4 separate regions of the Homo sapiens genome follow, and all the other regions are reported to be linked to region 3. The links are microRNA targets in miRTarBase. Many come from high-throughput screens and were not tested one by one. Region 3 holds a microRNA gene; each other region holds the end of a gene's coding sequence.

Evidence for each region. The annotated mature microRNA hsa-miR-4665-3p reads CUCGGCCGCGGCGCGUAGCCCCCGCC and lies in region 3 at 2,653-2,678, shown strand. An mRNA with a match to its seed (bases 2 to 7 or 8) in the 3' UTR can be bound and repressed. Matches are read on the target gene's strand: a 7mer-m8 pairs with bases 2 to 8, a 7mer-A1 pairs with bases 2 to 7 and ends in A, and an 8mer does both.
Region 1: miRTarBase lists PPP1R3G as a target of hsa-miR-4665-3p. Seed matches in the 3' UTR shown: 7mer-m8 at 2,074-2,080.
Region 2: miRTarBase lists PLD5 as a target of hsa-miR-4665-3p. Seed matches in the 3' UTR shown: 7mer-m8 at 7,305-7,311.
Region 4: the mRNA of RHBDD1 is a reported target of hsa-miR-4665-3p. Seed matches in the 3' UTR shown: 7mer-A1 at 1,097-1,103.

Annotation. Positions count from the first base shown.
Region 1 is chr6:5,085,204-5,093,091 of GRCh38, forward strand. PPP1R3G (protein phosphatase 1 regulatory subunit 3G) reads left to right here and starts at 138. Exons shown (of 1, transcript NM_001145115.3): 1 at 138-4,284. The coding sequence starts at 283. The coding sequence ends at 1,359. The region is part of intron 3 of LYRM4-AS1 (LYRM4 antisense RNA 1); the gene reads left to right. It also overlaps a transcript of LYRM4 not described here. RefSeq lists silencers at 1-89, 340-439, 580-629, 660-889 and an enhancer at 420-1,109.
Region 2 is chr1:242,083,959-242,091,846 of GRCh38, reverse strand. PLD5 (phospholipase D family member 5) reads left to right here. Exons shown (of 10, transcript NM_001372062.1): 10 at 1,737-7,888. The coding sequence ends at 1,993. Among named protein-coding and RNA genes, the nearest start is that of MAP1LC3C, 89 kb to the right of the region's middle.
Region 3 is chr9:6,005,219-6,013,106 of GRCh38, forward strand. It overlaps MIR4665 (microRNA 4665), which reads left to right and starts at 2,608; the gene lies at 2,608-2,686. BRD10 (bromodomain containing 10) reads right to left here and starts at 3,264. Exons shown (of 8, transcript NM_001017969.3): 1 at 1,977-3,264. The coding sequence starts at 2,569. RANBP6 (RAN binding protein 6) reads right to left here. Exons shown (of 1, transcript NM_012416.4): 1 at 5,807-7,888. The coding sequence ends at 7,072. RefSeq lists silencers at 1,732-1,791, 2,182-2,341, 2,532-2,761, 2,812-3,331 and enhancers at 1,932-2,161, 2,293-2,794, 2,795-3,294.
Region 4 is chr2:226,994,902-227,002,789 of GRCh38, forward strand. It overlaps RHBDD1 (rhomboid domain containing 1), which reads left to right. Exons shown (of 9, transcript NM_001167608.3): 9 at 530-4,309. The coding sequence ends at 621. It overlaps COL4A4 (collagen type IV alpha 4 chain), which reads right to left. Exons shown (of 48, transcript NM_000092.5): 48 at 7,813-7,888. Among named protein-coding and RNA genes, the nearest start is that of RHBDD1, 160 kb to the left of the region's middle. RefSeq lists enhancers at 177-1,376, 556-1,057.

The DNA.
Region 1 (7,888 bases), not on the chromosome of region 3:
GCCCCCGGCCCTCCCCCGTCGCGGGCAGGTTCAACCGGGAGGCGGCGTGGCCCCGGAGCCGGCCCCAGGCCCGCATCCTCCTCCCACTTCGCCCTGGGCAGCCGCAGCTAAAAGCCGGAGGCTCCAAAGTGGAACTACGTTGTCTTGTCGAGCCTGGGGCGACTCGCCTCGGGGAGGGCGAGCCTGAACTGCAGCCCTGCGCTCCTTCCACGGCCCGAGGAGTTAGTTAAGTCTCCAGAGGGGCCCGGTTCGGCCCGAGCAAGTCCAGGGGCGAACGGCGTCATGGAGCCCATAGGGGCGCGGCTAAGTTTGGAGGCGCCGGGACCAGCGCCCTTCCGAGAGGCCCCGCCGGCCGAGGAGCTGCCCGCCCCGGTGGTCCCCTGTGTGCAGGGTGGCGGCGACGGCGGTGGCGCTTCGGAGACCCCGAGTCCTGACGCTCAGCTAGGGGATAGGCCCCTGTCCCCGAAGGAAGAGGCCGCCCCCCAGGAGCAGGAGGAGCTGCTGGAATGCCGCCGCCGCTGCCGCGCGCGCTCCTTTTCCTTGCCCGCCGACCCCATCTTGCAGGCGGCCAAGTTCCTGCAGCAGCAGCAGCAACAGGCGGTGGCACTGGGCGGCGAGGGGGCGGAGGACGCACAGCTCGGCCCGGGCGGCTGCTGCGCCAAGTGCAAGAAGCGGGTGCAGTTCGCGGACACGCTGGGGCTAAGCCTGGCCAGCGTGAAGCACTTCAGCGAGGCGGAGGAGCCGCAGGTGCCGCCCGCCGTGCTCTCGCGCCTCCGAAGCTTCCCTATGCGTGCCGAGGACCTGGAGCAGCTCGGGGGGCTGCTGGCCGCGGCGGCAGTGGCCGCGCCCCTTTCAGCGCCGCCTTCCCGGCTCCGGCCGCTCTTCCAGCTCCCGGGGCCGAGCGCCGCGGCCGAGCGTCTGCAGCGGCAGCGCGTGTGCCTGGAGCGCGTGCAGTGCTCGACGGCCTCGGGCGCTGAGGTGAAGGGCTCCGGCCGGGTGCTCAGCTGCCCTGGGCCCAGGGCCGTGACCGTGCGCTACACCTTTACCGAGTGGCGCTCCTTCCTGGACGTGCCGGCTGAGCTGCAGCCCGAGCCGCTGGAGCCACAGCAGCCAGAGGCACCGTCTGGGGCCTCCGAGCCAGGGTCCGGGGATGCCAAGAAAGAGCCAGGCGCCGAGTGCTTCCACTTCTCGCTGTGCCTGCCCCCGGGCCTGCAGCCTGAGGACGAAGAGGACGCCGACGAGCGCGGCGTCGCGGTCCACTTCGCTGTCTGCTACCGCTGCGCGCAGGGCGAGTACTGGGACAACAACGCGGGCGCCAACTACACGCTGCGCTACGCGCGCCCTGCGGACGCGCTCTGAGCCTGGAGAGTTTCGAAGAGCCGTGGGGCGGGGTTGATTAGCACGTGGAGCTCGGGCTGCCGCCTCAAGGAACTTGCTGGGACGCTTTGCTGAGCGTGGCGAGTCTGGCGTGAGGGGCGCGTGGAGGGAAAGGAGGGAGACTTTGAACCGTCGACTCGCACCCCCGCAGACAAGTGAGCGAGCTTAGAGAGCCCGGGCAATGCTCCGAAAGCCTCTGACCTCAGTCTTCTCGTCCGTTTGACCTTCCTACAAGGCCTCTAGAATTCCCAGCCTGCGTCAGAATAGGAAGAAACTTCCAAGGCCCGGAGCAGCTGCCTCCAAGAAAAAGGCTCCCAACTCCCGGGCATGGTTCTAAGGCCTTGGGATTGGTTTTTAACTCTAAATATCATATTGTAGCCCTTGCAGTTTGCTGGAGACCCCTAGGGAAAGAACAAAGCGTCCTGCCACGGTGCACCAGAGGAAGGTGCCACGGACTGTGGGTGCACGCGTGGGACCTTTACACCCCAACCTATTTCTCAGAGAAAACCCTTCGGGGCTGGGCCAGGCCACCCTTTTCTTTTGACTGAGATGTGGGTAATGTGTGCCCAGACTTGACGTTGTTTATTGTGCGACATTGTGTACAAATGTCCTTTATAAAAGTAAAGGCCACTCGCACCCCCTTTTACGCTGTACTCTGAATTTTGGCTTTCGTGAGTTTGGGGAGGCATTGGCAGTCGGCCGATCTTTGTCAGCTGATGATGTGCGCACTTTAACAATCCTTAAACAACAGCCTACAAATTCCTCCCCTTCGTTCCTTCCTCTCTACTGCGAAAGGGCCCAAACTTCCCATGTGCTTTAAAATGTTCTGTAGAAAGTGTTCCGTCCCCCTCCGAATTAAGACGTTTGGTGAATTGAAATGCCAGTCCTCGGGCAGGCCCTGGCTGTGATCTGCGAGAGCCGGGCACGCACGCCCCGGCGCCCTTTGTGTAGGCAGAGCACACTGTTAGGAGACTTGCCGGGCCATTAGCAGTCAGAGAAGCTGGGCCCTTTTAGTCGCTGGACTGCCAGCGCAGGGGATGGGGGATGGGAAAGTGGCTTTCTGTTCCTCTCAGAGCCACAGTGGGGAGTGGTGACTTGATGGAAGAGGAGGCATGCCCAGCGAGTCAGTGCTGCGCAGACGCAGATGGCCACCTCTGCAGGCCCGTTGGGTGGGGTATGGACGGCCTTGGTCGCTGTGCTGGCTGTGGATGCCAGGATGATGTGGCCCTCTGTGCATGGGTGGGCAGGAGGGCATCCCGAGTAAGGTCTGTCGCCCCTTGACTCTGCCTCAGTGATTTCCCTTTTTTTAAGTCTTCCCATTTTCCAGCACATGGCGAGTACAGTCAGTCGTTTTAGGGATGGTAGTCTCTAAGGAGGGACAGTTTCACTGTTGCTTGATAGAACAGGGCTGGGCATACGTACATTTGGCCCATGGGCCAAATTTGGCACACAGCTTATTCTTGTAGGGCCTGTGACCTAAGAATAGTTTTTACATTTTTATTTTTAATTTAATTTTCTTATTATTATTTTTCGAGACGGAGTTTCACTCTTGTCGCCCAGGCTGGAGTGCAATGTGCGATCTTGGCTCATTGCAACCTCCGCCTCCCAGGTTCAAGCGATTCTCCTGCCTCAGCCTCCAGAGTAGTTGGGAGTACAGGCATCTGCCACCACACCTGGCTAATTTTTGTATTTTTGGTAGAGACAGGGTTTCACCATGTTGGCCAGGCTAGTCTTGAACTCCTGACCTCAGGTGATCCACCCGCCTTGGCCTCCCAAAGTGCTAGGATTATAGGCGTGAGCCACCTCACCTGGCCTTACATTTTTAAATTGTTGAAAAAAATTCAAAAGAAAGTACTATTTGGTGGCACGTGAGAATTATATAAAATATATATTTCAGTGTTCACAAATCAGGTTTTACTGGAACACAGCCGTGCACACTCATTTCTGTCTTCTCTGTGCTGCTTCCATGCTACCGCAGCAGAGTGGAGTAGACACAGCAGAGACCAGATGGCAAAGTGTAAAATATTTACTATCTGGCCCTTTTACAAAAGGCTGGCCAACCCCTGCTCTAGGGAAGTAGTGTTTTTTAAACACAATATGCTGACAATTATAGTTAATAAAGCATTTAGACTTTAGTGAGCTTTTGCCACTTGAAATAAACCCCCTTTGGGTAAAGGTAAAGCTTTATATGACTCTCAGTAATCTTGTTTAGAATAAACACGAAAATGTGAAAAGTGCGGTTATCATTGTGTCAGGCAGGGGAATCTACCTGTTGCCTTCTTTCACCTAAAAAAATAGTAACACATCAGTGCAACTGAAACATAGCACCCGTTTGAATTGGCTTCAAACTACAAAGCTGCCAGATATTTCTCTGTGCTTCAAAATGTGGCATCTTACACAATGGAAGTATTTAGTTTGAACTTTGGGTTGGAGATATCCCTTTGACTATGGCAGTGTTTCCCAAAGTAAACTGATCATAGGAAAAAAATAATTTATTGACAGCAAGCCATCAGGAGTTAACATATTACAATTTAGACTTTTAAAAATGGTCAATGGTCATATCAATGAACTAATGAATACTTAATTCATATATGCTTATAAAAACTTTGACGAAAAATAAATGATAAAATGAAACAATTTTTCTGTTACTAAATATAAAAGCTATGAAGCCTTCTGATGCATCATCAGGTAATCTTGGTCTGATATACCATTTCTTAAAAGTACATTATTGCATAACCATATTTTTCCGATATATTTATAAATACATTAATTTTTAAGATATTGACAGTATACATATGCTATAACATTGTTTGAAAATGCTTGTTTGTGGGGCAATAAAGCAACATTTTGAATTGTTTTGAATTACTTAAAATTAAATGAGGAGCCCAATATAATGATTCAAACAGAGATCTTTGTGTCTAGTATCCTTTAAAATGGTAACCCATTAAATCTGGACTCAAACAAGAGAAATAGATTTTTAGTGGTATGTACAGAAGACTTTCTATTCTGTCATAACACCATTACTGATTTTCAAAACTATATTTTAAAGTTCAAATGATTCATTTTAAAAGAAACTATTTCATAATATAATGAGCATCCAGTATGGCTGCTAGGAAAGGAAACCTAGTTTTGCTCTCCTCCCAGTCTCAGAGACTAGTGCGTCAAATGTTCATAATTTGGTAAAATATTTTAAACAGCCCAGTATTTCACCAATGTGTGTAGCCTTTCCAAAGCATTAGCACTGGCAATCTTTTGAATGTCCATTTTGTTTTATAAAAGTGCCAACTTCTCATTGTAGACTAATAGCAAACATTATGCAGTGAAATGTAAAGGTAATAAAAATAGGTTTTCTTTGTTTTTGAAAAGTTATTTCAAAGGAAAGGGCAATACGACCAGAGTGAGGAAGTATTTAAGAGTGTATTTCCTGAAAGGAAGACACACACACACACACACACACACACCACACACACACCACAAACAAAATCCCTGCAATGCAGTCAGTGCTTTTTTGCAGCAATATTTGCTTCAACTTGAGTAAGTGAAGGTCATTCTCCTTAAAAATGCAATAACTTTAACACGTTACCTAGCACTAGTGATAAAAACTAAGTTCTCAGCTGAGTTAATGACCCTGTCCTCCACCAGAGAGGGAGTCTAGTTTCTTCCTTATTGGCAAGTGTGTCCATGGATCACTGGGTGAGGGAATGTTGGATGAAATGTGTCCCTATCTAGAGCTTCAGAAACATGGGCTGGGAATGTGGCAGTTTGTATGAAACAATATTCTCCCCGGGAAGCTTCCGGTTTATGAAGCAAGGTGGTCAGCCAGTTCCAAGACTTAACTAGGGAGGGTAGGATCCTGCTCCAGGAAGTGTACGGTGGACTCTGGAAACCCACTGAGCTCTGGAGACACTGGAAGTCTCTGTCCAGGGCAGCAAGAGCCACGGCTCAGGCAGCCTTTCAGGAGCAACTGGGAATGGGGGTAGTTGCTGTTATCCACAAACCTCAGCTGTAGGGGCAGGGGATTTTCTCCTCTCAGGTGTGCGGTGGGCTTTCCATTCTGACCGTCCCCTCATGCAGTGTCCTTTCTTCTGCCTTGACCGAGGGGTGAGGGCTTCCCTGGAATGCTGTGGCTCTTGAGCCTGTCCACAAGGAGGCCGCCCACAGCCTTCCTGCTCAGTTCATTTTAGGAGCATTAGTGTCGGATTCTTCATACGTCATTTCACAGGTTTCCATATTTCAGCTTTCTAGCACAACGGTTTCTATTTTAGTAGGCTAAGATCTTTCATTCCCCTACTCAGTTCTGTGTTTCTTTGGAGCACTGTGGCTTGGAGCCTTGTGGGGCAGAGTGATTGGTGCCATGTGTTCTTTATCAGGAGTGTAAGGAACAGCCCTAGAGAGGAAATGTGATTTCTTTTTTTTTATTAATGGCATCATGGAACTGAATCAAACTTGCATTTTTGGTTCACACAATAGGACCCAGGTTTGTAGATTAAAAGAATATGCTGTGACTTGTGGAAACTCAACTGGCAACACGGATTATTTGCAGTCCAGCGTTTGTCCAGCCAGTCCCCAAGATGCCAGGACCCGATGGACTCCTGGAATCAGGGATGTGCTGCCTGAAGTCACTAAGGCAAGGGGCTGGGAACAGCTGACAATCCGGGCTCATTGCAGTGTCCCGGCCTCCCCTCCTACAGAGTGGTCCTGGCTGTCTTGAGTGTAAGTGGGCAGGTGCTTGGAAACCTGGGACACACTGTTTTTTGCTTCCAGACCACAAAATAGACACCTTCCACCTTGTGAACTGTTGTGTTCCTCTTTGGACTCCCTTTAGCTGATCAGGGAGGTGACATCAGAACGCAGCGGTCACTGATCCTTAAATCCTTCAAGGTCTGATTGTCAGAGTGCTAAATACCGTAACTTCAGGCGCATTCAGATTTCAACTCTTTTGAATCTTTTTGGTAGACATTGCATTTGCTTTTTGTGAAGTTTAGTTCTTTGACTTTGGTTAACTGTGAACAGGAAACTTTTGGAAAGAACAGAGGCACATGTCAGCTAAATGAAGATGTTTGAGATGGCAAAGATCAAGGGCTTCCTTTTAAGATTTGCTGGTGAGATTTTCCTACTGAGTTGGTACTAGAGGAATCAAATAGGTGAGATCAATGGAGTAGTAAAAGGCTATTTAAGTAAGTCATGAGTTCAGAGCAAGTTCAACCAGAAACTCCACATTTATACAAACCACGCATATACATATGCAAACTTTTCTGGTAAGGCAAAGCCATTTTCAAGTGACTTATAAGACATTTAAGGAAATTGGGCTGGTATAATTTCTCCGATTGTAGTTACTCCTCCCATTCCCATCGTTGTCACTGGTCAAGTCCTGTTCTTTGAAACTTGTTACCTGAGGTCATTTCCCACAGAGTCGACAGCATACTAACATAGCTGGAAATAGGAAATTCAGTCTGAAAATCTGGATGAATTAGGAGTGGGGCAGACAGATTTCATGAACTAAGCTTGAAACATTTCATCTTTAAGTTGAAAATTTCATGAACACATCCTGCAGATGGTTTTTCTACAAGTAGCTACTCTTGGGTCAGGTTGAGGAAGCGTCCACTCTGGCAGATGAGAATTTTATGTTCCTGGGAAACTAACAGCCCTTAAAGGGATTGCCTTGCTGTGGTCTGAGGATGTGCAGTTTCAGCTCCTCCCTTGACAGCTTTGGGTAAAGAACCCTTGTCATCAGGAGGTTGTTCTGGTGCAGGTGAGGCAGCATCTTTTTAAACCCTTAGTAGGTGAAAGAGCTCACTATTTCCCAGAAACTTTTTCTTCCCATACGTTTTACATTATTTTTAAAAAATGGCCGGGTGTGGTGGCTCACGCCTGTAATCCCAGCACTTTCGGAGGCTGAGGCAGGCGGATCATGAGGTCAGGAGTTCGAGAACAGCTTGGCCAATATGGTGAAACCCTTTCTCTACTAAAAATATGAAAAAAAAAAAATTAGCTAGGCGTGGTGGTGCACACCTGTAGTCCCAGCTACCAGGGAGGCTGAGGCAGAACAATCCCTTGAACCCGGGAAGCAGAGGTTGCAGTGAGCCGAGATCGTGCCACTGCGCTCTGGCCTGGGCGACAGACAGAGACTCCGTCTCAAAAAAAAATTCAGTCAGTTTATGTTCAGAACCACTGTAAGTAGGTTGAGGCATTCTGTTTGTGTTCCTTTCAGTCTGGTGAAGCAGCAGTCGTGTTTATGTGCACAGACTTCAGGCATTTTTTTAAATTGCATTTTTCAGCCAGCAAACCCAGAGCCCCTGTGACGCTCGGATCACCATTAGGTGCAGAACCTAAGATTAGTAAGTTTCTATTTGCTGCATTAGGATTGTAAAAGCATAGATCCAACTGGGTGTGAAGGTCCCCACGATATCTGTGAATATACTTGGGTATTAAATTGCAGACAAGTGTTAACAATGAAACACACAATATGTTCTTTGGAAATAAAATAACTTAGTACACATTTAGAAAGGTC
Region 2 (7,888 bases), not on the chromosome of region 3:
AAAAAAAAAAAAAAGAAAAAAAGAAAAGAAAAGAAAAAGAAGAATAAAGCTACTCAGCTACAGAGTAGGGCGTCCACAGAAAGCAAGTGGAGGGATGTGGTGTGTTTTTCTTATATAGGAGTCTTATCTATGTAAAAGCTAAGCTAAGCTGTGTCTATGTGTGAGTGAGCTGACAGCATGACAAAATTTATTATTCTATCGATTTAAAGAAAACATTCTTGGTGTAATGACATTCTAGTGTGAAAGTACATCGAAGCATAACTATAGCTATCCCGAAAGCACATACTGTTATGGGTATTGGGACATCTGGACTTTCCACTGCTGTAGGACTGTATCCTTTGGGGTATCTTTAGGCTGTTTTCTCAACTGTAAACATCTATGACCATGGTTGTGACTGGCAAGGAACATGCCTTGTTAGTCTCAAGATGGAGCTGAACTGAAAATGGCATTACTCTAGCTCTCCAAGGCTGCTGCTTCCCCCACACCTTGAAGATGGACTACATGGGAGTGGCATACACATGATTAGTCTCTTCTAGGGCAGATCCCAGGCTTACTCCTTTGCATGAGCTGAATCGTGTCCCTCCAAAATTCATATGTTGAAGTCCTAACCCCCAGTACCTCAGAATGTAACTCTATTGAGAGACAGGATCTTTAGAGAAATCGTCAAGTTAAAATGAGATCATTAGTGTGGCCCCTAATCTAATATGACCGGTGTCCTTGTAAAAGGGGGGAAATTTGGACAGAGACATGCATAGAGGGAAGACAATATGAAGAGACAGAAAATGTCATAGAGATGTCGGGCACAGTGGCTCGTGCCTGTAATCCTAGCATATTGGGAGGCTGAGGTGGGGGGATCGCTTGAACCCAGGAGTTCAAGACCAGCCTGAGCAACACAGCAAGACCCCATCTCTATTTAAAAATTAAAAAAAGGAACCAAAAAGCATAAATAAAAAGAAAATAGAAAATGTCCATCTACAAGCCACGGATAAAGGTCTGGAACAGATCCCTCCCCACAGTTCTCAGAAGGAATCAACCCTCCCAACACCTGGATTTTGTCTCCAGAACCGTGAGACAATACATTTCTGTAGTTTCAGCCACCCAATTTGTGGAACTTTGCTATGGCAGCCCTAAAAACACGAATACACCACATAACACGGGCAGTCATACTTGAGAGGCTGTTCTCATAGCACCTGCCCCACTTCCTGGGGCCAAGGGGCCGGATCCTGGGTCTGGGAAATGATTTCTAGTCCAATCGAGTGTTTGTTAGGAACTGAGTCTCCTCTGGCTTCAGCGTTTTCTTTGATGTGAAAGCTTCAGGGACTTATAATTAGAATCCCTCATTTGTTCACATGGATTAGATGTTGTCTCTTTGAGAAGGTAGTAATTACTCACAGGATTTTTAAATGAATCCCTATATATTTTAAATGTTGCTGTATTTAGTGTGGCTTGTGAATGTCAATAAGAAATAACATTTACAAGAAAGAACAGCAGATTCCTTGTTTTGAGTTTCCACCGGAGCAAAGCTGAAGAAAATGCCAAAATAATATGCAAATATTAATATGCCATATGTAAGGCTTCTTGGATTTTTTTTTCGGAGCTGTCAACACAATTCAGCCTCTCCGTTGTTATTCCTGGATGTTGATGATTTTTAATAGAATCCACTCTGAATTTCATTATATTGGGTATGTTCCCAGTGGACTCTAACTCCTCAACATTATTTCTTTGTTTGTTTGCAGGAAATTTTGATTGGGTAGGGAATGATTTCACTCAGAATGCTGGCACGGGCCTTGTTATCAACCAGGCAGATGTGAGGAACAACAGAAGCATCATTAAGCAACTTAAAGATGTGTTTGAAAGGGACTGGTATTCACCGTATGCCAAAACCTTACAGCCAACCAAACAGCCGAACTGCTCAAGCCTGTTCAAACTCAAACCCCTCTCCAACAAAACTGCCACAGACGACACAGGCGGAAAGGATCCCCGGAACGTATAACATGATGAAGAAACTGACAGGACAGCTCTGTATTTCATATTTATACATAAAGGACTTGAGGAGAGAAAAAACACTTTAATATGTCTCTTTTTTTAGGGAAAAAGCACACTTATAAAAAATATTCTCTGAACAACACATAATACCTATCTAACAATATCTTAGCGTCGTGTACACTAAAATTAAGACTTTTGTATTTGTTACCTCTGACAGAGAATGTCATTCTGGCGTAGAAGTTAGTTTTTACGTTTGCATACAAATTTTAAGACTTTCATTCCTGCTCCTTTCTAGTTTTAGAACTTTTTCTGCTGACCTACCCGGTCAGTTGTTAGGAAGCTTAGCATGAGGTGGGCTCTTTAACACCATTCTGAGAACTGTTGATTTAGAGAGGAAGGTGAGGATTTTGCCTTGGAGAAGAGACTGATAAAACCAAGTGTTTATTCTTGTAAATCGTCTCCAAGACCTACACAGTCAGCTAAGCATGAATAGCTTACATCTCATGCCAGCCTTCAACACCCTTGAAAAATATCCTTTTCTGTCTTGCTCATTTTCTTCTTATACCATAAGTTTTATTTGGTATCATTTTCTCTTCTCACAAAATGTTCCTATTATATAGCATTTTCTGTATTCACCTCAACATTACTTCTAACTATGATAACATCTTTTGAAAACATACAAATTTTTCAGAATGGATACTAAGTGGAAATAGCAGTCTTTCATTTTCACCTTTCAACTGAATCCTTTTTTCCCCTACCGAATTGGTATTTAAAAAAAATCACAGTCAGCAATATGTATCCTTTCTCTCAAGCTCAGAAAAATTATGTAGCCACCTGCTAATATCCAGCAAGCTATCAAGTCTGCATTTTGGGAATAAAGTAGTTTTTCACATTTTTGTTCAGTTTATGGTATTATAAAGGAAAAAATCTCTATGCGTCAGTGGATTTTAATTTCTTTAGAATCATTATGCTGTTAAGAGTATGCCAGCAAACGTTTCTAGAGCTATTTAATATACCTTCTGCTATTTAATATACCAAATGCTTTTCAGAGAAATGCAATTTAAATACTGTGCTTAACATATTTTACTAAGAAGCAGAAATATTGAATTATTGTTCTATAACGTAATTGTGTGTTGTTGTTTTATATCTATACAATATATACCCCTGTATTAATGGAGACCATTGCTACACTAGGGAGAGGCATGGCCTCTTCAGAGCCCACAGCAGGTGGCCGGGATGTCCAGTTCCAATGTTGTTCCCGACTCTGTGACTCAAAGCGGAGCCCCTCACTGCTTGGCCTCGGGCTTCTCTTGGTAATGTAGACGGTAATAACTCACCTACCTCGCAAGGATGTTGTCACGGTAGGAAATATTTATAACTTGTTTTGAAATCAAAAGAACCTATATAAATGCTAAGCATTATAATATATAATCTTTTTCTTGAAATAAACTTTGTCATATCTTGATGGAATCAACACCAGGTCCTCCCCCAGAATCCACAAAGGAAAACAAATTCACAGCTTCCTGTTGCAAATGTGGATGAAAAGAGCACAGCCCCACAGAAACCCTGGTGGAGATCTGGATTGTCAACATTTCAATAGAACATTGCGTTGGGCTGCTTTGGCATGAATAACATCAACACAAAACTAGACGTCGTGCTAGAGCTGGTTCTTCAGGACCATAATATACATGTATTTTCAGAGCAAGGAAACACTCAGTTATTCTTTTTCATTTCTGGAGACTTGATTTCTAAATGCCAAAAGAGTGATCGAGGAGCCTGTGAATCTTATCCAATGGATTTACTTAATATAGAATGGCTATGTTGGTTATCCAGTGAGTGATCACATTACTTCCCTTCTTGTTATTTGCAAGTATTGCTTCACTAGATATTTAACCAGTTGATCAAGAGAGCTGGAAGGAAGCTGTATTTTTAAGGGTAGCATGGTTTTATGACTAATTGGGAGATTCTCACTGAAATTCTTCATCAATAATAGCCAGTCCCTAAGACTCTAAATATTTACCATATACACAATCCATATTTGAGTTGGGAGTTATAACTCTGCCAGTTATCCCAATAAAGTAAACGTGGCTTTGGTGATGATTTTAAAAAGAAAGCAGCCTGGGTGCGGTGGCTCACGCCTGTCATCCCAGCGCTTTGGAAGGCCAAGGCAGGAGGATTGCTTGAGGCCAAGAGTTTGAGACCAGCCTGGGTAGCATAGCAAGATCCTGCCTCTAAAAATAAATAAATACAGAAAGGAAAGAAGGAATCAGAATAGGAGTGGAGACAAACCTACCAAGTTCACACTCAGACAAACAAAAGCGACCTGAGTTGGTTTTAAAAAGGACATCTAAAGGGAGAAAAAAAAACCAAATAAACTAAAATTTGTTAGTTCTCAAGTTGTCCCCTGAAGTATTCATCCACAGCCATGGGACACTCATAGGCTTGGTGTCATGGGGCCCCTTCACTGTCACTATCTGCTGTATGTGCTACGAGAAGAGAATGTCATCCATTACGGAATGACCATCATTGCCATTTCCTTTTGAGGCCTGGCAAAATGCTATCACCAGGAGCCGCATCCCAGGCTTTTCTGCCAAGCAGCAGCAGCAGATGCCTACCAGACACAGCAAGCCCCTAATCAGGGGAGTCTGGGCAGCGGTGGTGACTCCATGGGGCCACACTGTCCTTCTGTGGCAGCCAGAAAAGTGACCCCCATACCAAGAGTGTCAGAAATGGGTTCATGTCTCCCAAGAGAACATTTCATTCTGCAGAACTTTCTTTCATTTGGATGCTTTAGCTATCCCTCTAGAGACGGCTTTCCTTTCTTTTAGACTTGTTTCTGTGCTAAACAAACTATCAACCTCCATTCCCCCCCACCCCTAAATATCCCAGGAATTACTTTCCAGGAGGGAAAGAATGCAAAACAAAAACAGGTTAATTTGACACCCTCTGGTGGATGTCCATGCCAGAAATTATGAGGAGCAGGGTGACTACTCCCCATTAACATTCCTGGATTTATTTCCCAAGAGGCAAAAAGGAAAACAAACACAATTAGAGACTATATCTTGGATTTCAGTACCACTAACACTAACTTAGTGCCTTATGTATCCTCAAGTGTTGATTTTAAACAATGACTTATTCTATGAGAACACTTCTCTCTCCTGTGGAATTCAAATGACCTTCCGATGGGCCTACCAGTTGAAAACTTCCATTTGAGCAGTGACAGTTTTTATGCTGCCTGTTCTCTTCCCAAGCCCCATCACCTTTATCCACCCCCCCGCCAAATCAAATCATTGCACACACCATCAAAGATCAATACTGTGGGCCTCCACTGCATTGTCACTGGCCACTAGCCTATCAAATAATTGAATCTCTGCTTGTCCAACCATTGGAGAGGAAGTGGAAGAGTGAGATGACATCCATGCTTTGTAAACAACAAGCTTTAGGTACCTGAACCTGATAGAAACAAGGAATGCTGAAAATGTCCCCACTGACTTAAAAGAATGCTGTAAAGAGATGCTTTGCAGACTTCCTAGGTCCTGTGGCACAGAGAATGAAAACCAGCGTCTTTAACAAGTCAAAGCAGACAAAGAAACAAAAGGTCTGCGGATACACTTTGCACCTGTGTAACTCTGGGCACCATTCGGGCCCTCTCTGTGCTACTGTTTGTCTCATGTCTGAATGGTTCTTGGTGAGAGGGGTCTGATCACATTTTTGGTTGATCTCACCCTTTGAAAAATGTGGGGGATTTTTTTTGAAATGCAGTTAATGGTTTAAGTGCCTCGATGAACCTGGGATGGATAGAAGCTCATTTCCCACCAGCCTGTGGCTATACTCAGTGACTCTGATTCATTCTGTTTGTTTTTAGGAACTTTTATTGAACTAAATTCCAAGGGGGGAGAAAAGACCATAAGAATTTCTTGATAAGATCAGATCCAGGGTCTATCTGTCTCAGGAATTCTATCCTACAATTAACTTTTTTTTTTTTCCACACGTATGACCACTGGTGTGTGTTTCTGTGTCCAAAATTCATTTCATTATTTTTAACTTTAGGAATGTAAAACGCTGCCATTACTTGCATAGAACAGCCACTTCCTATAATGAAAGATACTTTGTTATTGTTTATTCAAACTCAGTCCTTACGAACAGCCCCATATATTGTGGACAAATGTTTCATTCTTTTATCTTTCTGTACTTGTTCCCAATGAACTGGTGTGCTTTATTATACACCTTTTAAAGGCAAAATTAATATAACTTCCATTTGGCCCAAGGTAAAAAATTTTCCAATTTGATTTGGATTAGCATCTTTCATTTTCCTTTTATATGTTGTTAACAAAATAGCTGCTTACCATTTTCACCTTATTGACTTAAATGGACGGAGGCTTTTGAATAGCCCTGACATCAACCCCAGTTCGCAGCCTGTCTTTCTCATTTGAGAGAATTCCCATCTTTGGCTGAATTATGAAGATGCTGCTTTATACAGTGACTCAATGGGTATTCCTCAGAAGTTTCTTGAAGATGTAAAAATGAAATTTTCTTATTTTTGACCCATTAGCAGTCTTGTATTTACAAGGTTCTAAAACTTCACTGGTCATTAACGCTTCTTTTGGCAATTTGAAAAAAAAAAGTTACATTTAATAGACTATTACACATTTTCTTTTGCTATGTTCAACTACTAAACTTCTAATTCTGTTACAAAAGGTATCTTGAATTTTTAATGTTCCTTTATGTAAATAGGATAAACTTGTACCTGGACATATCTATATTATTAACCTTAAGATCCCTAAATAAATGGGTTTGATAAAGGGTTGAATTTGGGGGAATCATTAAAATTATCAAACCTTTCGTATAACCAGATGCTCAGTTTTTTCAGAAGTAAATATTAGATGGCTTTTTCATACTGTGAGATGAGGCATTTCTTTTTCTCCTCAAGCTGATCTCAGAAACAAATCAGTCTCTCATCAGTAACCAAGCTGTACTGTGGTAAATTATGAAGAAGGTAGATGCGACTGGTCCAATGGGCCCACTGTTTTGTATATTCACACAAGGAGGCATCTTTGAAACACTATACCTATCTCTTTCTCTAAAAAAAAAAAAAAAAAAAAAAAAAAAACCTTTCCAATAAATGTTCATTCTGAGTACATTAATTTTTAGTGAGAAAAAGAAACAATCATAGAGACCCCACTAGAGAACCTAGTGTCTGCTCAGCAAACCCATATTGAGCTGTAGAGCATACTTTAACAGCCATCTCAACCAGCTCACCCAACGTGTAAATTCCCTTCCCATTTGGGCATAGAAGTTGACAGCCTAGAGTGTCAGGACGGCCGAGTGGTCTGAGGCTCCAGACTCAAGGTGAGAAGCTGAAAACCTACTTGAGCCAAACAATTTGGAGTGCTTTATATGGTTCCTTTCTCAAGACCCACACAGGATAAAATTTTGTTGATTTACTAAAGTAATTTGGATTTGAGGCAGTCTTATCTCTGAAAGGATATGCACAGCATGTAATAAGGTGGGTGCTGTTTTCATAAAGAGAATCAATCTGAGAGGCATACTTTTAAAAAAAAAACTATCATTGGAGAGGTTAGCAAAGGCTTAAAAGTGAACTTTGAGTCTGCAATAGTCAATAGTATTCTGATTTTATTGGCAGTTTCTGAATGCTACAATTTCGTGTTTTTTTTTAAAAAAATGGGCTAACAGTGCGATGACAGTCATGTACAAGGAGTCCAATTAAATCATAGTAAGGGTGAAGATTATTTGTGATTTATTTTTATATGAGAGATAAATTAGTAAGGAGAAAAGATCTCTTTTTATGAAGTGGATATCTGGCTCTCAAACCCATTCCTTTTGGCTCAGACATTAAAAAATTATTAATTCCCTTATGGACTCTCCTATTCCCCATGGGCGG
Region 3 (7,888 bases):
GTTTATTATAGGCCGGGCGCGGTGGCTAGGGCCTGTAATCCCAGCACTTTGGGAGGCCGAGGCGGGCGGATCACCTGAGGTCAGGAGCTTGAGACCAGCCTGGCCAACATGGCGAAACCCCATCTCTACCAAAAATACGAAGATTAGCCGGGCGCGGTGACAACTAACCCCAGCTACTCGGGACGCTGAGGCACGAGTATCGCTTGAACCCGGGAGGCGGAGGTTGCAGTGAGCTGAGATCACGCCACTGGACTCCAGCCTGGGCTACAGAGGGAGACTCAGAGAAAATAAAATAAATAAATAAATGTTTATTACACACAGAGCTTTTGAAAACACCAGTAATTCAAACCCATATGCTATCTCTTAGCACTTTCATTCAGTCATTCTCTTGCCTCATTCTAAATCATTATTCCCACATCTGATAGATTAGATGAACTCTAAGGTTCTTCCAGGTCTAAAATCTTGTGACATCAATCAGGAGGATACTTCATAACTTCAAAATAATAACGTGAATGGATTGTTTTTTATGTGAGTCACAGCAATAATGCACTGTGGAGACAAGGGTAACAAACACACTACAGAAATACAAAATTACTAAAGTATTAAAAGTAATTTACAAAGCAAATATGTGAATAATTATTCTATTACTAAATAATCCTACTCTATGAAAGGATTCAAGAAGAGGTTCCTTAAAGAGAGCTCACTTAACGAAGACAGGCACTATGTTAACTGTTTTTGGTGAAAAAAATCACCGTTAGTCTTGAAAATGGCATATGGGAAGCCAATGACAAAGGTTACTTTTAAATTACAGTGACAAATCAAGAACCAAAAAATTAACACAATTTCTAGGAGCTATTCTGTAAGAGCACAAGTATAATGCCGTTTCAGATATGAAGTATACACTCATATTATTCAACGACTGCTACTACTTACATTAAAATGGCTAACACTTATACTTGGCTAACTATGGGAGCAGCACTGTTGATTTCACATTTATTAACTCATTAAATCCTCAAAGCAACTCTATGAGAGAAGTACTATTATTATCCCCGCTTGATAGATGAGGAAACTGAGGCCAAAAAGGTTAAGTGACTTGCTCAACTTAAATTCACTCTAATAGTAAACAGTCAAACTACTATTCCACTTCAACTACCAATACCAAAAACATTGAATTTTTCCACTCCCGAAAAATTTAAACTTTAGAAATTAACTTGGCTGACACAGACTATACAATTATTATAAAACAATACATTCATTTTAGTATCCTCCTCTTGTGTTAAATAATTGGATATATGGGTGGCGGATACCAAGAGCACAGTATCATCTGACTTGCCTATGATTTCTGGTAGAATAAACATAAATGTATAAACTTTAAAAAATGTGTGTTGATGCATTCCCTATTATTGCAAAAATTGGGTGTCCTCAGATGAAACGGAGAGAAAAGATCAGTAGTATGCAAAAGTAACCATTAACCATTTAGTAACACTCCATAAATCTTCGATGACCGACATGGGTAGTAAATGATAAAATTATTTTTTAATGGTTTAAGACACCTTTTTACATAAGCCAAAATTATTTTTCTAGAGATATTTCATCCTAAACGCTGTTTTAAATGTCATGCTAAAACTGTCTAAAAGTTGCAGGTCCAACTTCCATCCCACAAAAACTGTTCCTCTGCCTACACGTGCAATTCTTCCTACGGGACCCATTCCATTTTACATCTGCAAACTATACCCAGCTCTTCAGCGCTGCAGACTCGGGTTTCCTTCTCAGTCTACGCGCAAGCCGGGTTCGGCCCACACCCACCACACCCCTCCGGTCCCCGCCCAGCGCCGCTCCTCCTCCCGGGCTTCTCCAGCACCGACTCAGCACCTATCAGCGCCGCCCCCAGGCCCCTGGCCCAGCCCATCCTCGGGCACGTGTGAGTGTGTGTTTGTGTCAGTCTGTCAGTCCCACCGGGGACCGGGCTCGCTTACCGAGAGAGAAGCGCTAACTTCTGCTCCAGCATCATCTCCAGCTTCTGGCCCTGTTTGGAGATCCAGTGGTCCACTCCGTGCAGGCGGTAGCACGTCTCCAGCATCAACCTGAAGTCCGCCACGAACTCGGTGATGCCCCCGTACTGGCCGCTGGCGAACTTCTCTTCCATCTGCAGCAGACACATGCCCTGTCCGGGCTGCTGCGGGAAGGCGCGACCGCCCCGGCCCCCGCTGCGCGGCCCTTCCGCCACCTCCTCCTCCGCGGTGGCAACGCCCCCCAAGGGCTGCAGAAAGGGGGCGGTGAGGCCCCGGTGCTTCTCCTGCAGGAACTCGCCCAGGATGCGGTAGCCCTGCTGTAGCTCGTAGGTCAGCTCCTGCTCCTTGCAGCAACCGCCTCCGATCACCATCGCCTCCATCTCTTCCTCCTGATCGTCCGCGTCCTCCAGCGAGGAGGCACTCCTTCCGTGGGCCGGCCCTGAGGTCTGGGCCGCCGCTGCCACCTCCTCCTCGTCGTCCTCTCCTTCGGCCGCCGGTGGCGGCCGCTCTTCCTCCCCAGCCGGCTCCATCGCTCCCGGCGTCCCGGGCACACTCATGCCCCGGCAGGCCTAGGCTGGGCGGTGTGGAACAGCCGCTCGAGGTGCTGGGGGACGCGTGAGCGCGAGCCGCTTCCTCACGGCTCGGCCGCGGCGCGTAGCCCCCGCCACATCGGGCCTGGCTCTCCTCAGCCGCCGGCTCGGCTCGGTGCGCGCGGGGGTCTTGAGCTCACCGCCGGCGGGGCGGGGTTACATGGCGCGCGAGGAGGGGGGAGAGAAGAGGAGAGCCTAGGTGCCCTCCTCTCCCCTCCCCCCCGGCGGCGGCGCGCGCACGGCCCTCGCCGGCCTCACCCCTCCGCACCCCGCCCGCCTGCTCTTCACCGGCCAGGCCCTGCCGGGTCGCCGCGGCCTCGGCGCCCCACCCCCTCCCGGGCCAGCGGGGGGCTGGGAGGGGGCGAGGAGGAAGGGGGTTCTCCTCTCCCCTCCCCGGAGGGGGCCGCAGCGGCGGCTCCGGCTCCTCCTCTCCCTCACACCCCCTCCCGCCCCCCTCTACCTGCGGGGGACACGGGCAGAAGGAGGCGGTGCACGGACGGGGCCCGGCGACAACTGTCAGTTAGAAGCCCCGCTGGGCGGTGAGGGGGGAGAAAGGGGAGGGGCAGGGAGAGAAGGGGGAGGGCACTCAGCCCCCCGGCTGGGAAGAGCTGTGGAGAGAAGCAAAGAAAGAGGCCCTGTCGCCATCCCCGGTGCGCATGCGTAGTAGAACAATTCCCCCCTCCCCCCCCGCCACCATCGTGCCCCGCCCCGCTACGCAAAAGGAAGAGCTTCGGCTCAGCTACAGGCCCAGAAGCCTGCTAGGGTTGCGCGGACCAATGATGTAATCAATCGTAGGCCAATCGAACATGTTGATGGAGGGGGAAGCAAGGCGCCTGCGCAGCTTAATTCGCTACCGCCTGGGAAGGTGGCCAAAAGGCTTTTTTTAAAGCAAGTGCTTCAAGAGGAAACTTCTTTTGCAAGACCCGTGTTAGCCCCCCAAACTAAAATTAAAGTTGCTAGATAACCTTTGTTAATGGCAAATGAATAGTGAGAAAGCGCAAAATGTAAATCTTCTCTACTATAAAATTTACATTCTGTTCCCACCCTTTCTCCCTTGTGACTGCGGGTCTTCTATATATAACCAGAATTTTGAGAAGTTTAGAAAGAAAGTTTAAGGACTCGACCATACGTTCACATGCAGAAGAAAAGGAAGTGATTTTTAGAACCCCAGCTCTTAACATCAATTCATATTTTGGAACTAATTCCATGTTTTCAGTTACAAATTTCCACCCTCCCGATTCTTGAGATCTGTTAAGAATAAAGAGAATGGAACCTCATTTAAACAAATTCTTGGGACTGAAAACAGTCAAAATAGTTCATGTCTGAGTTGTACAGCATTAAACAGTTGTTTGCATGGGCTGATAATCTCACTACATTTTACAATTACTGTTTAATGACTAAAAAGTGGACTCATCATTCACATTGGTTTACATGTTACTTAAAATTAGTTGGGAGGTAGGAATTCATGGTTCCATAAAGCAAATACTACTATTTCCTCATGTTCTATTTGAAAGACGCACATATTATTTTTTCTAGGTACACAGAACCCTCGTTAAAACCTAGAATTACCTAAACACAAAAACAAAATTACAGAAATCATGCATTTTAAAAGTAAAATGTGTATAACTAAATGATTAGGATACTCTGACTCTTGCAATTGTTTACTTCTCATTAATGTGAACTTTAAAGCAGTGATAAAATTTTTTTTTAACCTCAAAGCTGTTTTTGTCCAGTAAGTTAAGTATCACTCTTAAGTAAAATAGTGAAGCGGGAACGCTCTGTTAGGGTATTCACACTGTCCTCCACACATACCTTTTATCTAGTATTCGAGGTCTCCTCTCATCAGACATTTGTAATATATAACGCATTTACAGGGTTCTCTCCCCTCAGAGAAGAGTCTGTGGACTCTGAAGAGTCCACAGAACCTCAGCTCACAGAAAGAAAAATGCAGGGATCAGTCTTACTTCAGCACCTGGCAACCAAAACGTGTGTCTGACTAGACATTCCTCCTTTCTTTCGACAAAGCCCAGGAATCTGAAGCCCAACGTACCCAAGCAAACATCCTCTACTCCTCTTTAGTCATCAGCTCTATTTCATGACTCTTGGACAATATTAGCTTACATTATTGAACCCTGTGCCACTAAGCACTTTATATTCATTGTCTCCTTTAATCTCACAACAAGCCTATCAGCTAGGTATTAACCTTATTTTTCAGATGAGGAAACTGCCTCTTAGTTTAAGAAAGTTGTTAAACAAAGTTAAAATCTAGGTCTGTCATACTTCAAAAACTCCAGGTGCCTAATTCCAAGTCATCTGGCAGAATTTCTAATTCCTCATACATAAAAGTGTAGGGAATTGCTAGAAATGTTGATAAAGGGTTTCTTAATTAAGATTATATAAAAGAGAAAGGTGTGGGTGAGTAGAAGGAACCTCAACTCTAGGTTATGAAGAGGTCAAGATGATAGCAACTTAACTATAATGAAAGTAGGATCGGGTCCTTGATCTTAAAAAAGAAACTCTATTACACAAGAAATATGGGCTGGGCACGGTGGCTGACACCTGTAATCCCTGCACTTTGGGAGGCTGAGGTGGACAGATCACCTGAGGTCAGGAGTTCTAGACCAGCCTGGCTAACATGGTGAAACCCCGTTTCTACTAAGAATACAAAAAATTAGCTGGGAGTGGTGGTGCGCACCTGTAATCCCAGCTACTCGGGAAGCTGAGGCAGAATTGCTTGAACCTGGGAGGCGGAGGTTGCAGTGAGCCGAGATCGTGCCATTGCACTCCAGCTTGGGCAACAAGAGCAAAACTACATCTCAAAACAAACAAACAAAACAAGAAATATGTTGGTTGTAGGTATGTAGGTAAATTAGAAAATATAGGTAAGTGAGGAGAAAATTTGCCACTTAATCCTACCACCTAGAGAAAACCTCTATTAATACTTTGAGGTGGGATTTTTCTATTCATTCTTCTATACTTTATTTATCTTAAATATACTAAAAATTGTGATCATACTATACATAATGTCCTTAATTTTCCTTTTTCCCCCATTAGTAATAATTACATGGAATGGACAGAATTGCATATCTAAAATCTCAACTTTATATTCTTGTCAACAATAGCCTAAATAGCCTGCCAATATGAATGAGTAGGGAATGGATTGGGAAAATTCTAAAGTAAAAGAAGTTCCAGACACAATAGAGGTACAAACAACAACAGCAATAACAGCTACAATTTATTGAGCACTTACTAGGTCTTAAATATTTGCTAAATACATACACAGTACTCACAATAGCCCCAGGAAATTATAGATGTATTTAAGTTTTGGATCAATGAGTAATCGTTAGCTGAGTAGAAAGCTCTTTTCTACCCTACAATAAGCTCGACATTAAAGACTGACATTCCAATTAATATAATTAACCCTGGACTTATAGAACTGTTTTCTCATAATAATGCACATCTACTGCTAAATGACTACTCTCAAAGTTGTTTTCTTTTTCATGTTCAAAGAAAATTACATTTCTTTCCTTTCACTTTTCCAATAGAATACTCTTCAGTTCTACTCTAGAATCTCTTAGGAAATTATTTGAAATAGAAATCAATTTAAGCCCTATAACTAGAGCTTTTTCTCTTGTTGAGCTGCTTTGCAGGGAGAAAATGGCATACATATACAAAATAATACTCTGCTGAAACACATAACACTGACTCCCAAGAATACTGCTTACTTACTCTTTGTCAAACACTGTTACATGCTACCAATATTAGATGTATCAGGACTCCCTTTTCAGTAACTATGGTTCTTGGAGTCCTGGATAACTTAAAAAAATAGAGACCTGTCTGGCTAAAGAAATTTAAAAGTTCTCTAACTCTCAACCAGACACCTTGGGAACTACAATATGGATATGTCCTACCCAGTTCCCAGGAGTACATTATGAAGAAGTTCATATACATCCCACATCCACTGCAGTATCTCAAAACTCTCCTAGTAACAGCATCCTCCCATCACCACAAATACCAAGAGTATTAATTAAAGAGGGACAAGCCTGCCACTATATCCTTCACTCACAATTCCAAAGATGTTTGTCCTGGAAATTCTATCTTATTTTTGTGAGCTCTTAGCATATTGTGATAGCATGACATCTTCACATCAAGTATACTGCTTGGCTAGCATCAATAATAGTTCAAACAAATAGCAACAATTTATATACTTTACATCAACTAGGGGAAAGGTGACAAACATTGTTTAAGACAGTTTGAAGCACAGGTTATCACCAAGGTCTGTGTTTGGAAGATAAAACATGCGAGATAAACAGAGGACTAACACTGATTAATTCTGGAGAAACATGGAGAAGAACTATAAACTGCTTAGCAGGGAGAAAACAGTTCTCTGATTTATAATAAAATCTATTCACAACACTTATTTGTAGTTACTTTTATAATAGATAATATTCAAGTTATATTAAAGTGCTTCAAGCAAAATTTAGCAACTCCTGTAAGGCTTCCTGCTGTTCATCATCAAGTTGTGATACACATTCCAACCATAAATCTTCAGAAGTCTGTACCTGACGCACGACATTAGCTAGGCGTTTGGCACAAGGATCCTCATAGTTAATAGTCTCATTAATTTTTCCTTCTGCAATTATACTGATTATTTTGGGAAGATTGGAATTATTTGGACCAATTACAACTGGGTGGTTACTTTCAATTAGGTCACAGAGAAAACTCAAAGTCTGAATAGCTTCCTCTTTATCTTCATGCAGTGGAAGCCATGATAACCAGTGTGGAAGAACTTCATCTACATTTACACAGTTAGGCTTAAACTTCAAAATCTTCCCTATTGCTGAGATACAGTTCTCTGTAGCAATGACATTTTTTTTGGTTTTGGAATTTGCACACTTAATAACTTTTACCAGAAGTGGAACAGCTTCTGAACATAAAGAACGATAATCATCTCCACCAAACTGTGCCATGACACCCAGGCCATAAGCAGCAGCTTGCCTGACTTCAGGGTTGTTATCTCGCATATTTAGTAGCATTGGCCACCGAAAATATTCTACATATTTAAATGAAGTTGGACTGCAGTGCTCTATGATGTCATCAAATATGCACAATCCCCACTGTCTGTCTGGCCATGGCCTACTTGAACAAATTAGATTTACAATTAATGGAAGTAGTTGTTCAAACCATGGTAAAATCTTTTCCTTATAAGTACTAAATAATGAGTGCAAAATATCTGATACTTTGGTCAGAATATAAACATCACATTCATCCTCATCTTGCAGAGAC
Region 4 (7,888 bases), not on the chromosome of region 3:
TATTGATCAGTATGGTAACTCTGCTCCAGTGGTTGCTTGTGTGTTTCAATCACGCATGATTCTTATTGGCCACATTGGGGCAGGAGGCGGCACATTAGAGGGAAGAAAAGGAGCACCCAAAGGCTGATCAGAAGAAGCCAAACCAGCCTAGTTGGTGGGGAAGTTAGTAAAGGTGGCAACAAGTTATATATGGGCATAAAAAAAAAAAGACAATAAGCCCTTGAGATACTGTGTAAGCCTAAATGATGCAAATTATGGAGCACGATGGAAGGAAAAATACAAGTGGGAAGATTATCAAGAAGCCTCAAAATGAGTCAAATCAGATTCATGGCTGAACCACTCTAAAAATATTTACTTGACGTTGAAATTTAGTACTGACAGCTGAAGTTGAAAAATCTTTGTTATATTTCTGTTTTGTGTTAAAATGAAGATGACACCCAAGCTATCACTTTGTTCCCTTGGAATCCTAGGGTACACATGCCTTGTCACGTCAGAATGATTGATTTTTCCTTTGGCTTTCTCACTACAGGAAATACCAGAAATAGCCCACCACCCTACGGGTTTCATCTCTCACCAGAAGAAATGAGGAGACAGCGGCTTCACAGATTCGATAGCCAGTGAGGTGGCATCTTGGGAAGACATGGCCTATTCGTGTAATTATTGCCCATTTGGCTCATTCCCCAAGCCCCTAATTCATTTTAATTCATTTTAAACAAAAGCAGAGTACACCGGTATTGCTCCAGATCGCTCACATCACCTGGGACAGTCCCATGGCCCCTATGAGTCAACTCACAGCTTGCGGGGAGTGGGCCTTCTCCTGGCCTTGTTCTTGCTCATAAACAGGTCACTTCCTCCATGAAGAGACCAGTTTCCACGCTCCCATCTCTCACTGCTGACTCAGCGATGCCTCTGCCTCGGTCTGCTTTTGAAGACTGTGACCTTCACCAGGAGGTTTTACTTACACCAGTCGGGAAGATTAGTCCCTCATTCTGCCTGGAGTGCCCCGTGTTTGACTTGGCAGCGGGTGTGGAGCCATCCCCGCGTCCTCCTGGCGCATTGCCACTGTGGCTGTCCAGGAACAGGATGTGGCTGCCTTGGCCGAATGTTGTCCTACTCTCCCCAACCCCGGCGCCTCAGCTCCTCAGCTCCTCGGGCCCCTGCGTCTGGCTGGTGTTTGCAGGGCTTTCGCTCTGCTCTGGTATTGCTCTGCCTTTATAGAAAGTCTTATTGAAGAAGTGTAAGAAAGACCTAAGGTGGGGAAGACTCCTACACACACCATTAGTATCAGTGACACCAGCAATGTAGGTTCCCAGCCCCTTCCCAGTGGCAGCTTGTGTGTCCAGGAGATAGGACATCATTTAACGCATCAGCAAAGTAGCAGCAGATGCCACATACAGAGTAGAGCGAAGGCATTTGGTGGATCGGTCACTAGAGATCTATCTTGCAGAAAGTATGTTTTTCCTCATAAAAGTGCCTCTTAATTGGCCATTGTACCAGCCACTTGTCCTAGCCAAATGTCCAAAACACGCCCTTGGGCCCCGCCACGTTACAATCCACAGATTGTCTGTCTGAGTCGTTTAAGGCATTTCCTGGTGCTTGTGTTCCATGAATAAAAGGACAAAGTCAGAAGATCACTGATGTCTTACTGTCAACAGAGATATTTTAAAAGAGAGAAGCAGGAAAAGATCTTCCTTTTTTGATCTACAACTTATATAGTTTTCTGATTATGCACATAATAGATATGCCTTCCAGATGCATAAGGCAAACATCTGGAAAGAAATATACCCAAATCTTAGCAGGGGTTATCTTTGGGAGTGGAGTACATGGGATTTTGCTTTCTTCATTTTTATAATTTTATATTACTGTCTTGGAAGATGTGTTTATGTGTGTGTGTTACTTTTACAATCAGGAAAACATATTTAATAACATATAGTCAAGAAAACAGACTTAAAAATAAATACTATGTGTCCATTGAGAAAATTCACAATATAAACAGAAATACAAATAAATACATACACAATTTTAAAGTCACCTGTAGCCCTACCCTTAGAGGTACCCAGGGTTAACATTTTGGTGGTATTGTCTTATCAATTTTTCCGTTGATACATTCAGCAAATTTGGAGCACATTGACCATGGAGTTTTGTGTCCAAATCCAATCTGAATTTACCTGGAAGAGGCCTTGACACCTGCATGGAAATGAGCTAAGAAAACCACTGGAGCCTTGGGAGCTCTTTGGCCTCCTGGCTGGCCCAGTAATATCTGAGCTCCTTTGGTTAATTTATAACTGATATAAAACTACATCTTCTTTATAATATAAATTGTACCTGTGAGTCTAGAAGCTTTAAATGTGTTTAAATTAAAATATTCAAGCTAAATGTTACTGCTCTCTCCCAAATTCTGTAAGTTTGACTCCCGTTACCCCAATTAGAAGTAACTTCTTTGTTTCATGCCACTTTTATAGCATTTGGTAATTCTGCTATAACACATCTTGCCCCTATTATTAACTGTGCACAGCTACACAAAGGTGTGCCTTCTACGTGGGAACATGGATTGTGAATGACTCTGTAATGAGGCCTGAGTCTTAGTTATCTTTCCACTCACTCCCCGTCTCCCCTTTCCAACCCCAAAGGCTCACGATAGGGGCTCACTAAATGTCAGTGTTTCACCAAAGTATTTTTTCCATTGTATTAAGAGTCCAGTCACTGTATATGGAAGTATTTTATTTTTTATTTTTTTATATCACTTGAGTCCACTAGTAGTACTTCCTTGCTCTGTTTGACTTGTCAGATACAAAGACACGGGATTAGATTTTGGGTGGTAAAATTGTGATACGCATGGCTGTTGATGGAGTGGAACATCTTAGTGATGTGAGAAAGGTCATTTTAGTTATAAATGTAAACCAATTACTTTAGCACAACAATAAAGATGTTCTGGAAATTATTATAATTATTTTAGTTAATGGACTTGCCTGTAACAAGTGCTTATGTTTGGAATGTCCATTTTATTTTATTTTCCTCTACAATAAGGAATCCCTAAAGTTATGCCAACAAACTGGAATTGGATTGAGAAAGACAAAAGCAAGTGAGCAAGTGTATTAGACTAATTATCTCTAGTAGGGAATAAGCACTTAGAGCTAATTTTTTAATTTGGTTTATTTATTAGTAGCTCCCTGATTGTCTGTTAAGCCCCTGGTTCCCACAGTTTGGTGTGGTCAGTCAACTTAAGCGACCTTTTAATGCAGAATCTTTACTTGGTTCTGAAGAGGAGGCAGTAGTTAAAATTGCTTCCTCTTAATGACTCTGAATGTATTGCCTGTGATTCCAAAGTTGTACATAATTGTTCAGACCTCCTCCATCCTTTTAAATTGCCTGCTGCAGTAAATAACTAGTTTGAGTAGAACTAGATCCTGTCTATCTATTTGGCACATGTTCTGCTGCCTGGGGAGTAAGCAAGCTAAAGGGATGAGAAAGACCACCTCCCCCTACCCTGGAAATTGCACTGCAAGGCAGGGCGAGAATGGGGTAGCTGGCAGACCTGGCCTCCTTGTTCCCAGTCTTAGTTTTTCTTGAGAGATTCAGTATTCAGTAAAGAATAGCATTCAATTAGTCAAAAAATATATATATAACTTCTTCCTTTCCCTTCCCATGAATCATTGCAGTCATTCCCTAAGTTTCTTCTCTTTTTTTTTCATGGCTGCTAGTATTTTATTTTAGAATCACAGACTCTCAGCTTAGAGAGTCACAGTATCTCAATTATTTGCTCTGTTCAATACTTAACAATACCTCCTCACTCAATTCTACATAACTCCAGCTTAGTCTTCCAAAATTCACTTTCATGATGCCACTCAGCATCTCAAATACCTTTCATTGGCTCTCTGCTGCCAAAGGATAAAGGTCAAAGTCATTAGCCTCAACAGTGGGCTTCAACCAGCCTTTGGACCTCAGCCCCATTTATCCATCACAGAGGCTGGTAACTAGTCTCACTGCTCAGGCTGTGAGTGTTCCTGATCTTGTGACATTCTGTGCTGTGCTTTTACATGGAACAGCTCTTTCCTCTCTCTTGGCCCATTCAGATCCTCCTCATCCAGCCCCCATCTGAATCCTGTAACAGACACAACCACATCTACACAGTTTCCACATACCACTTGGAATTGCTGGTTATGCTGCAATGAGAGAATGTCTTTGTCTTTAAATTGTAAGCTTCATGAGGGCAGGGACCATCTGTTTCTCTGTCTCTCCTCACAGTGCCTTGAGCAGTACGTTGTCTGGAATGTCAGAACCAATAAATACTTGTGGATTGAAACAAAAAGAGAAGCTCATTTATACTGTCACCAGTGGCGCACATAAACACTAGTGCCTGGTGCTTATTGATATCATTGTAGGTCTTTTTTTTTTCCCTTGAATCAATCACATCAAGGAAAGAATGATGGAAAGCATTTGCTGGTAGAAATAGAGACTTCAGGGCCTTTGTCAGCCTGAAGACATGTCCCACTGCATCGAATGCTGTGACCTGGTACACAAAGCTCAAGATTCCCACACGACCAAGAAGTGTCACCAAGGAGTCCCTGTGAGTAGTACCGAATCTTGCCATGTGCTTTTTACAGGTCTGCGTTGGATGTGTTTGTGCTAACATTTTTTCCTTCTGTGGTATTTAGGGGCAGAGAGAGAATGATCTTAACATCTCGATCAGATGATAGATGAATTGGCAGATTTAGATATGTGATTTATACTTTAGAAAAACTAAAATGTTGCTAATATAATAGAAATCATTAAATTTGGTCATAATAGGTATTGCTGCTTGGGAAGAGAGTAGTGTCATAAAATCAATGGCATCATGTGGCTTAAAGAGACTCTTGGAATCTGGGACACACACAAGCAAAACCCTAGAAACAACACTTCTGCTGTGTGGCTCTCTGGATGCGAAACTGGATCCCTTCTCTAAGTATTTTGAAAAACACTGCTCAGCCACCTCCAGTGAGGGTTTCTGCCAGGAAGTTGTGAAATTACTGTGTCTTTCTCTCACTATTTCCCCCTTAGATAACTTGTTTAGTGCCTGGATGAAAATTCTAAAAACAAAAATCAAACGAAAGTTTGTAACTTAAGAGATTCATGATATTTATTTGAGATTCTTTCAAGTTATTGCCTGCCTCTGACCTTGAGATACTATCTCTTTACAAGATCCTCTCCCTCAACAATTTAAATCTATCTTGCATATCCTTAGTAGCAGATAATTATTAATGGAATTGAACAAGGTCTTCAGACTCTCGTTATAGAGGAGCACCAAGGCCAACCTCTCTGCTCTTCAGGGTGTGCACCCAGGGCCCACAGCACCTGGAAGCTTCTACAGATTCAGACTCCTGCTCCCCAGACCAAATGATCAGAATCTACATTTTAACAGGTCCCCTGTGGTTTATAGGCACCAAAGTACTTCTCAAATTTCAGTGCGCACAAGTGCATTTTACACCATTTATTGCATGTAAAGCAGACTGACTGCTTGGGGACCAGAAGAACATCTTACTCCTCATTATACAATTTTCCCTACTTTTATCAAACATAAAAATGATTACAGGTTGAGAATTTCATCTGTGGCTGATAAAATTATAACCACTAAGTATATAATCACTGAGGATGCAAGCTACCCCCTAGAGATAATGTATGAAGGAATTGCCTTGCTGGCAAATGGGAGAACAAAAATGACTAAGTTGGCTGGTGCTGCAGTGACTGAGCATCAAGTAAGGGCCTTCAGATCCTCCTTTCTCCAGCTCAGAGCAGTTGCCCTAAATGACTGACCTTGGGTTTCTAGGGGCTCCAGAGGTAATATGGTTTGGCTGTGTCCCCACCCAAATCTCATCTTGAATTCCCACGTGTCATGGGAGGGGACTCGGTGGGAGGTCTCATGGAATCATGGGGGAACGTCTTTCCCATGCTGTTCTTGTGATAGTGAATATGTCTCACGAGATCTGATGGTTTTGAAAAGGGGAGCTTCCCTGCACAAGCTCTCTTCTCTTGTCAGCCACCATGTGAGACGTGCCTTTCACCTTCGCCATGATTGTGAGGCCTCCCCAGGCACGTGGAATTGTAAGTCCAATAAACCTCTTTCTTTTGTAAATTGCCCAGTCTCAGGTATGAAAATTTATCAGCAGCATGAAAATGGACTAATACAGGAGACACGGCTGGTTTTCATTTCTTTTCTTTTTTCTTTTTTTTTTTTGAGACAGAGTCTCGCTCTGTTGCCCAGGCTGGAGTGCAGTGGTACGATCTTAGCTCACTGCAAACTCCACCTCCCAGGTTGATGCCATTCTCCTGCCTCAGCCTCCCAAGTAGCTGGGACTACAGGTGCCCACCACCTGGCCCAGCTAATTTTTTGTATTTTTAGTAGAGATGGGGTTTCACATGTTAGCCAGGATGGTCTTGATCTCCTGACCTCATGATCCGCCCACCTTGGACATGGCTGGTTTTCAGTTGACCCTGAGATAAAGGCCTGTGGGATTCCCCCAAAATAGCTCTGTCCTCATGGGTTCCTCACCCCCTCCCTCCAGAACAGCTTGAGACAGTCTCCAAGCTGAGCTGGATGGGCTACCTTAGAACCCGTAAAACAAGGGGCTTTGCAGTGACAGGAGCAATCCAGGACACCTCTATGTGAGACCCTCTATTTTCTAACCAATTCACGAATGGGGAAAGCCGCTGGGAGGTAATGGAGTAAAGGATAAAAGTATTATCTTTAGAACAGACAGACGAGGGTTTGGATTCTACTAGATGGTGACTGTATGACCTTAAAGTAGTTATTCTCTCTAAAGCTCAGTTTCCTTGTCTGCAAAATAGGACAGCTGTAGGGTTGAGAGGAAGCATATATAGCAGAGCCAATACTGCTGCTGTGACATAGTAGACGGTCAGGGAATGTTTGTTAGTTGAGTACCCTTATTTCTCTATCAGGTAAAAGGTTGGCCCAAATACCAATGAAGTTCCTTCCTACTTAAAAGTAAGTCCAAGGCTGGGTGCAGTGGCTCATGCCTGTAATCCCAATGCTTTGGAAGGCTGAGGCAGGAGGATGATTTGAAGCCAAGAGTTTAAGACGAGCCTGGGCAGCAGAGCAGGACCCTGCTTCTATAAAAATTAAAAATTAACCAGGCACAGTAGCACATGCTTGTAGCCCACCTACTGGGGAGGGTGAGGCAGGAGGATCATTCGAGCCTGCGAGTTCAAGGCTCCAGTGAGCCATGATTGTACCACTGAACTCCAGCCTGGGCAACAGGCAAGACCCTGTCTCAAAAAAAAAAAAAAAAAAAAAAAGGCCACAAAGCAGTTATTGAATATCTGCACTCCACCTACCCCCATGTTGTTTGGCTATAAAGAGAAATGTAATCAATACCTAACTAACTCCTGACTTCAAGTCACAGTGGTTAAAAGTAACAATATCTTTGGTTTCATAAATCTCTTTGTAGTTAACTTTCACACCTTGAATCCTCCCAACAATGCTGTGAAGCAAATGGTCTTATTCTCACTCAACTAATGAGACAGCTGAGGCCAAGAGGGTGTAAGCCCCATGCCCACTGACCACTGCCCAAGCAGCTCCCGTGGGGTTGATACAGACCTTCCCCCTGAGGCCTGCTTTCATTTCTCTTCTGCGCGCCATCACTGTGCATAGAACAGTGTTTCCAAGAGCCTCTGAATCTCATCCTTTCCAGCCTACACTCTTCCCTTCTGCAGTTCACACTTCCACAAGTGTGAGCCACATTACAATGTAAGCTAGAAGAAAAAAGTAAACCCGCATTGGCTTGAAAGAAAATAAATGCACCAGATAAAACACAGTTGTTTTTGGAAGTCATCACAGAATTTTATATATAATGAACCATATTATAAATCGTAATACAACAAATATTTAAGTGCC